Regions from separate parts of the Homo sapiens genome. Here region 2 is linked to region 1. The links come from fine-mapping of genetic effects on gene expression. A gene starts in region 1. The other region holds a variant in brackets. All regions are shown on one strand. Distances are between the middles of the regions.

Region 1 (4,397 bases):
CTCAAGGAAATCACTTCTCAATGTTCCATCTGCTATTCTACTACCCTGCAGGGATTGTTCAGGCCCCCTCCCTTCCCTACACATCAAGCTCGGGGATTTGCCCCGCCGAGGACTGGCAAATTGACTTTACTCACATGCTTCAAGTCAGGAAACTAAAATACCTCTTGGTTTGGGTAGACATTTCACTGGGTGGGTAGAGGCCTTTCCCACAGGGTCTAAGAAGGCCACCGCGGTCATTTCTTCCCTTCTGTCAGACATAATTCCTCAGTTTGGCCTTCCCACCTCCTCTCTTTCCTTGAAAATCACTGAAGCCTCGACTTACTCACTGCTGAAAAAGGAGGACTTTGTATATTTTTAAATGAAGAGTGTTGTTTTTACCTAAATCAATCTGGCCTGGTATATGACAACATAAAAAAACTTAAGGATAGAGATAGAGCCCAAAAACTCTCCAACCAAGCAGACAACAACGTTGAACCCCCTTGGACACTCTCTAATTGGATGTCCTGGGTACTCCCAATTCTTAGTCCTTTAATACCTATTTTTCTCCTTCTTTTATTCGGACCTTGTGTCTTTCATTTAGTTTCTCAATTCATACAAAACTGCATCCAGGCCATCTCCAATAATTCTATACGACAAATGCTCCTTCTAACAACCCCACAATATCACCCCTTACCCCCAAATCTTTCTTCAGTTGAATCTCTCCCACTGTGGGTTCCCACGCCGCCCCTAATCTCGCTCGAAGCAGCCCTGAGAAACATCGCCTATTATCTCTCCATACCACCCCCAAAAATTTTCGCTGCCCCAACACTTTACCACTATTTTGTTTTATTTTTCTTATTAATATAAGAAGACAGGAATGTCAGGCCTCTGAGCCTAAGCTAAGCCATCATATCCCCAGTGACCTGCACATATACATCCAGATGGCCTGAAGCAACTGAAGATCCACAGAAGTGAAAATAGCCTTAACTGATAACATTCCACCATTGTGATTTGTTTCTGCCCCACCCTAACTGATCAATGTACTTTGTTGATCAGTAATCTCCCCCACCCTTAAGAAGGTTCTTTGTAATTCTCCCCACCCTTGAGAATGTACTTTGTGAGATCCAACCCCTGCCCCCAAAATATTGCTCTTAACTCCACCGCCTATCCCAAAACCTATAAGAACCAATGATAATCCCACCACCCTTTGCTGACTCCCTTTTCGGACTCGGCCCGCTTGCACCCAGGTGAAATAAACAGCTGTGTTGCTCACACAAAGCCTGTTTGGTAGTCTCTTCACACGGACATGTGAAACACTGTGGTCAATTTTTTTTCTTTTTAATAATAATTCTTTTTTAGAAATATGTGCTTAAATAATTGTAAGCCAGGCATAGTTGCCTGTGCCTGTATTCCTAACCACTTGGGAAGCTGAGGCAGGACTGCTTGAGCCCAGGGGTGTGAGGCTGCAGTAAGCTATGATCACGCCACTGAACTCCAGCCTGGGTGACAGTGAGACCGTGTTTAAAAATATATATATACAGATGAAATGATATGATGTCTGAGATTTGCTTCCAAATATGCCTAGGAAGGGAAGAAGTGTTTAGAGATATAGACAAATCAAGATTGTCAAAATGTATAGTAACTGTTAAAGCTTGCTAAGGTAGTTATTCTATTTTTGGATATGTTTGGAATTGTCCAAAGGTTTCCTAAAACTTATGTTTAATATTCTTTCAGGAGAAAGCAATATTGTAAGATCAAAGAAAAGGCCATAACAGCGCACCCAAAAAATTTCAGCATTACCATTCTGAGGGTCAGGAGTCTCCTCCCTTCCATCCGCCAACACTTGAATCAGGACTATAAAGTAGGTGTTTCCAAGTCTCAGGCAGGTAAATGGATAAATTGCAAAACTGGATGCAGAACTCACATCTGCCTCATACATAGGCCCTGTGACACCCCACCAGCTCCTTTGCTCCCTTTCTGCCTTTCTCATGCCGTCCCAGAGTCTTGCACACTACCAAGATGGTGGTGAGTCAGGACAGTGAAACAGGTCGGCTCTTCACTCCAGGAGTGTGCGCGGGCGCCGGGCCGCGCAGGCGCATTACTGCTCCCCTCCCCCGACCTTGGCTGATCGCGCCTGCGCAGTGGGGAGCAGCTCGCTCCTGGGCTTTGGGCTGGCTGCAGTCTGTCTGAGGGCGGCCGAAGTGGCTGGCTCATTTAAGATGAGGCTTCTGCTGCTTCTCCTAGTGGCGGCGTCTGCGATGGTCCGGAGCGAGGCCTCGGCCAATCTGGGCGGCGTGCCCAGCAAGAGATTAAAGATGCAGTACGCCACGGGGCCGCTGCTCAAGTTCCAGATTTGGTGAGTATGTGCACTGGGCCCCGGCCACCCCGCCGCGCCTCTGCTCGGCGCCATTGGCTACGCGAGGCCCCGGCTTCGCGGCCTAAATGGCCGCATCTTCGCTGGCCTCGTAGAACTGTGCCGGCGCCCTTCCACAGCCAGCCTTCTCGCGGCCCCTTAGCGCGGTCAGGCCGCCCTCCTTTTCCAGGTATAACTGCTCACTTGTTTTTTGCCTCCTAGAACAGTGGGAATGGGGAAGGAGGGCGCGAGAAGGTTAAACGCTGAAAGGCGAAGACTGGGGGACACCTGTTAGTACGGAGGACTGGTTGGCGGCGTCACGCCATAGCCACCCCGGCTGCCTGCGGAGATGGGGATGAGTAGGCGCCGCGTCGGCGGAGGAGCGCCAACCGTTTGTCAGTTCACTTTTTCTGCCCTCTTTTCCGGGGTAATGCCGGGCGGCTTCGCTGCCTGGCTAGATGAAGGTTAATTCGGGTCATTGGAGAGGATCCGGGAGTGACAGACGCCGTTTTTCTCCTGAACTTGCTGGGGGGACTGTTGAGTTTGCGAATGGGGCGTCTGACAGCTGGAGGGGGTGGAAGGAAGGTCTGGGGATGCTGGTTCTGTTTGCCATTTCCAAAGTGTCAGAAAAGGAGCACGTTGTTCTTCTAAACATTGACAGTTCGCTCGCATTCCCTCCTCACCTGCCTCCCAGGAGTTGCCTGCTCTGGCATCTCTTTCTACCTTTCAGTTGTCTTGTGTATCCAGCAGATCTCGGCAGTTTTCGACAGTGTTCTTTAAATGATTTTGTTTTTAACCTAATCGTTAGAAGCAGGGCAATGATGCATTTTATACGGTAAGTGGGGTTGCGGGTGGGGATTGAAAGGCTCTGAAGATGGGGGAAAAAACACCAAAATTGTAAAATTATAGAAATGAGAATCTTACACCTCCAAAGATGACATTTTCTCAGGATAAACCGACCATCCCAGAATAGCCAGATTAGTAAATCATCAGAGTCCGGATACATTGGAATGTTGGTGTTGGACATCATTCATTTAAAACCTTCTTTTAAGAACTTCATGTATTAGTATATTAAAGTTTTGATTTTCTACTTCTCCAACTAGCTTTTTACTTACTCACTGAAGACCAAGCAAACCTTTAAAATAATTTTTAAAAATCGGCTTAAGGTGATGTTTGAGTTAGAAAATAAGATGGTGAGACTTTATTTTTTTGAGTGAAAACTAAAACATTGCAATTTCTCCTGATTAAAAACAAACAAGGCCGGGCTCGCTGGCTCACGCCTGTAATCCCAGCACTTTGGAGGCCGAGGCTAGCGGATCACCTGAGGTCGGGAGTTCGAGACCAGCCTGACCAACATGGAGAAACCCCCATCTCTACTAAAAATACAAAAATTAGCCTGGCGTGGTGGCGCATGCCTGTAATCCCAACTACTTGGGAGGCTGAGGCAGGAGAATCGCTTGAACCCGGGAAGCGGAGGTTGCGGTGAGCCGAGAACGCGCCATTGCACTCCAGCCTGGGCAACAAGAGCGAAACTCCGTCTCAAAAAAAAAAAAAAAAACCTCCCTGTACAATGTACTATGTTTCTGGAATATATCATCTTTCATGTAATACTGCAAATGGGAGAATGGTTTATCCATTAACTTTTTTCCTTAATTTTTAAATTAGAAGGTGGTAATCATCTTACTAACCTAAAGATTGTTAAGGGTTGTGATACTTACGGATTTAAGTGTTAAAAAATTGCAGTTTTCAAATTATTTAATTTTTCTGTATCCTACTTTTATCTCTTGGTTGTATTTTTGCTTTTCCAAAATACCCCTTTTACGTTTGCTTTTTTTGGAACACTTGTCACAATAATTTACCAGGTGTATCTTCCACCAAGGCTATTCATAGCAAGGTTTTCAAAATGTGTAAACAAACGTAGGGAAGGGCATTCAGTCCTTCAAATTAAACTTAAAAAAAAAGTAGTAAGTACTTCAGTTAAACTTTTGATACTTTGTTTTTCTTTGTTTTTAAGTACAGACCTGTCCCAAAAGTCTAATAATTTTCTTTTACAGTCACTCTGAGC
Region 2 (4,397 bases), 22 kb before region 1:
TGGCTGAAGTTAGTAAAAGTTGTGGCTGTGTGATGGAACAAAGCTAAATGGCCCTTGACAGAATCTCACCTTATCCAGACCTTCTTAGTCCTGACTCTGAAGTAAATAGTCAAAGATAGAGCAGTCAGATATATGTAATCTAACTAGTATTTTTGTAAACTGGTGATAATTTTATAAGTTTGTTGACTTTACCAAAAAAGAGTTGAAACATAAGAATTTAATCTTACCATATATACGTCCTTTCTAGAGAATGGCTAGAATTTAAGTATAATAATGCAGACATTTCAACTTGTTCTTGGTTAGTTTGTGGGGAAAAATAAATTTTATATATCACTTAATTTTAATGGTTTTTCACATGATAAGATTAACCTTTCTTCCTAGAGAGCTATATTCTTAGCTCATTACAAACAACTAAAATTTTATATTTTTAAAATCTGATATCAAAAGTGAATTTTGATAGGCAGAATATCCCCTCTTCTTTTATTTACTCTTCTACTTTAATTTTATATTGTGAAAAATATAAAACTGCCTATTACCAGAACTTACAGGCTCCTTAAGAGGAGAAACTTAATATTTTCTTTCGAATTCTCAAAGTGCCCAGTAATTTGTTTTCATGTAGAAGGTAAATAATTGTTTATTAAATAGTACCAAAAAGTGAAACCAACATGACTTTAAAAAGAAAAATTGGCTGGATGCAGTGGCTCACACCTGTAATCCCAGCACTTTGGGAGGCCGAGGTGGGTGGATCACCTGAGGTCTGGAGTTCGAGATCAGCCTGTCTAACATGGTGAAACCCCATCTCTACTAAAAATACAAAATTAGCTGGGTGTGGTAGCAGGTGCCTGTAACTGTAATCCCATCTACTTGGGAGGCTGAGGCAGGAAAATCGCTTGAACCCGGGAGGTGGAGGTTGCAATGAGCTGGAATCGTGCCACTGCACTCCAGCCTAGACTCTGTCTCCAAAAAAAAAAAAAAAGAGAAAAATTGACTTCAATTCTGTATTTTCTAAAAACTCTTAGGCAGACTTTTAGAGTTGAATATCTAGAAGTGATACCCTATTCTATGTTCCCTGAGGATCTGAGGATGCTTTAAAAGTTCAGAGTATCCTACCCAGAACTCTGAGTAAAAGGTTATGGAGACCTGGAGCATTATATATATATTCCACTGGAAATTCTATAAGAAGTAGAAACCCTACGTTGGAGCCAATAAATACTTACATAATTTTTTCCCCTCTTACCAAAATATATATCTTGTCATAATTATAAAGGAAGAGTCATTCCTTTATTTTTTATTTATTTAGCCTGTGCAACGAAGCAAGTATTATGCTAGAGGCTCAGTTCTAATGGGGAATGGTAGAATATGGTGTTACCGTAGGGAAAAATACTGGGCATTATGAGAGCCTGGGAAAGGTGCGACTATCCAGTCTTAAGGTGGGGAGATTTTCCAGAAGACTTAAAGGATAAGTAGGGTTCAGCCAGGTGACTTGTGGGGGAAGGTGTTCTAGGCACAAGGAACAATATATAGTAGTCTCCCTTTATCCTGGAGGGGCAGAGCTATGCCTGAAACCACAGATAGTACCGAACCCTATAGAGACTGTGATACACAGTAAGAGATTAACAGTAACTCATAAGAAAATAGAGCAATTATAATAATATACTGTAATAAAAGATATGTGAATATGGTCTCTCAAAATATCTAATGGTGTTGTATTCACCCTTTTTGCGACAATGTGAGATGGTACAATGCTTGTGTGGTAAGTTGAATGACCACGGCTATAACTTGCAGTTCAAGGCGCAACTGCAAAACTAGCACTAATCTCTTTTTTCTTCTTCCCAAGTTCATGGATAGGTTTAATCTTACTGTAAATCATAGCAAATCAGCATACAATATTTTTTATTCCTTATTAAGAACTTTCACCTTTTCACTTAAAGGGAGCACTTTACGGCTTCTCTTTGGCATATC[C/T]GAATTGCCAGCATCACTACTCTGCACTTTGGGACCATTATTAAGTAAAATAAGGGTTACTTAAACACAACTACTGTTGATACTGTGACAGTCGATCTGATAACCAACACAGCTACTAGTGAAAAATAGGTGGGGAGCGAATACACTGTGGATACACTGGATAAAAGAATGATTCTCGTTCTAGGCAGGATGCTGAGAGATTTCATCACACAGCTTAAAACTTATGAATTGTTTATTTCTGGGATTTTCCATGTAATATTTTTGGGCTGCAGTTGACGCTTGGTTACTGAAACCATGGTTAAGGGAGACTGCTGTACACAAAGGCCAGGGGCAAGAGTATACAGCACCTTAGCGGAAATAAAAGTGATTCAGAATCAGTGAGGAGGGACAAGAAAAGTTATCAGAGGTCTGATCATATTGGAAGCATTATGGCATCCCTTTAAGGGGAAAAAAGTTTTGTGGTACTTTGTTGCAGAGCTGAATTGATCTGATTATAAATTAATATCTGTAGGATTCTTATTCTTGTAGCATAATCCATTACAGGTACTTGATCATACATATTCTTTATAGTTTTGGAGAGAGCCTTGTAAGAGTGAAACTTTAAACACCTTAAATAGAAAAGCCCTCTCATATGTTCAAACCATCTATCTACTGGCACATCTCAGAATATGCAAAAGTTTGGAATGCTTGTTGGCTGGTACAGAAACTTCCTGGTTTACTCTGATAAGGTCATTTTATTTCTAACATGGGAGTATGTAGCATACTTCATGAGACCTTTAATTCAGATTCTTTATATAAAATGTAGATAAAATCACATATTTAGTTTCTGTATTTCATATGCCAAAGCTATGTTGATTTAAATACTGTAATGTTTTTGGCTTTTAAAATTGAATTTAAAAAAATATTTCCTGCAGGAAGCAAGAAGTGACAAGAGTCCAGATTTGGCACCTACTCCTGCCCCACAGAGCACACCACGAAACACTGTCTCTCAGTCAATTTCTGGGGACCCTGAGATAGACAAAAAAATCAAGAACCTAAAGAAGGTGAGAGACTTAAAAACAGATGTGCATATTGAAAGGTATACATGAAAATTATATAAGTAAGAGAGTACTTAGATGCCTAAAGACAGGTATCTAAGAAGTTGGTATCAGCAGTTCTCATTGTTGTTTTCTCACTATGAAGCACTGTTCACTTAGGAATGGTATTGATTTTAGTTCTATTCATAAATGTCTGAAGACTCTTAGTACTTTGATTTTTGGAGTAATAAAATTCAGTGTGCATCAGCATAGAAATATACTGAACACTTTTTTTTTTTGAGACGGAGTCTTGCCCTGTTGCCCAGGCCGGAGTACAGTGCCACAACCTTGGCTCACTGCAACCTCCGCCTCCCAGGTTCAAGCGATTCTCCTGCCTCAGCCTCCCGAGTAGCTGGGACTACAGGTGTGCGCCACCACGCCTGGCTAATTTTTATATTTTTAGTAGAGACAGGGTTTCACCATGTTGGCCAGGCTGGTCTCAAACTCCTGCCCTCAGGTAATCCACCCGCCTCGACCTCCCAAAATGCTGGGATTTGTGAGCCTCCTCGCCTGGCCACTGAACACTTTTTAATTTAATTTAATTTTTTTTTTTGAGACAGAGTCTTGCTCTGTCGACCAGGTTGGAATGCAGTGGCGCGATCTCGGCTCACTGCAAGCTCCGCCTCCCGGGTTCAGGCCATTCTCCTGCCTCAGCCTCCCGAGTAGCTGGGACTACAGGCGCCTGCCACCACACCTGGCTAATTTTTTGTATTTTTAGTAGAGACGGGGTTTCACCGTGTTAGCCAGGATGGTTTCAATCTCCTGACCTCATGATCTGCCTGTCTCAGCCTCCCAAAGTGCTGGGATTACAGGTGTGAGCCACTGCACCTGGTCACTCAATACTTTTATACTCAGTATTTCATTAGATACCTTGTGATAATTAGGGGCAGATATTTATCCTAGTTTTGAAGATGAAGAGACAGAGACAAAAAAGAAGTGTATTGATTTGTGATATTGCAGCCAGTGTGCTGGGGTGGCCCTGGGGATAAAAAAAGGTCTCTAGAGCCCTTCACAGCTGCATTATGAGGTTTCTCTTTCATTCACTTTTTATCGGGCAGGACTTTGGACCAACAATCTTTCAGAATGCTCTCATTGAGATTTCTCTCAAAGCCAGAAACATCACCCAGGTCCAATGGGGCATTGAAATGTGCCATTACTGATACATTTATATATACACATGCATACACGATAACATTAATTAAAAGCCTGAGAATAATATTTTGCCAAATCTCATGTTTTTAACATTTACAATTTTGCATTTAACTTTAAAAAACAATTTATCCTAGCATTTTAACAGACCATTGTTGATACAAATCTAAGATAATTAATCTCCTTACTTGAGTTTCACATTCTTAATAA

The links. PIP is the estimated chance that this variant, and not a neighbour inherited with it, causes the effect.
Region 2: its variant is the best candidate, but not a certain one, in a credible set for the expression of SELENOT in whole blood (INTERVAL, PIP 0.68).

The regions. Positions count from the first base shown.
Region 1 is chr3:150,601,165-150,605,561 of GRCh38, forward strand. It overlaps SELENOT (selenoprotein T), which reads left to right and starts at 2,157. Exons shown (of 6, transcript NM_016275.5): 1 at 2,157-2,335. The coding sequence starts at 2,199. LOC124900547 (a long non-coding RNA gene) reads right to left here and starts at 2,019. Exons shown (of 2, transcript XR_007096128.1): 1 at 1,780-2,019. RefSeq lists enhancers at 1,946-2,025, 2,146-2,295, 2,268-3,041, 2,316-2,615.
Region 2 is chr3:150,578,742-150,583,138 of GRCh38, forward strand. It overlaps EIF2A (eukaryotic translation initiation factor 2A), which reads left to right. Exons shown (of 14, transcript NM_032025.5): 12 at 2,877-3,005. All of the region lies in intron 1 of LOC124900547 (a long non-coding RNA gene), which reads right to left. Among named protein-coding and RNA genes, the nearest start is that of SELENOT, 22 kb to the right of the region's middle. The variant C/T (reference allele first, on the strand shown) is at 1,963.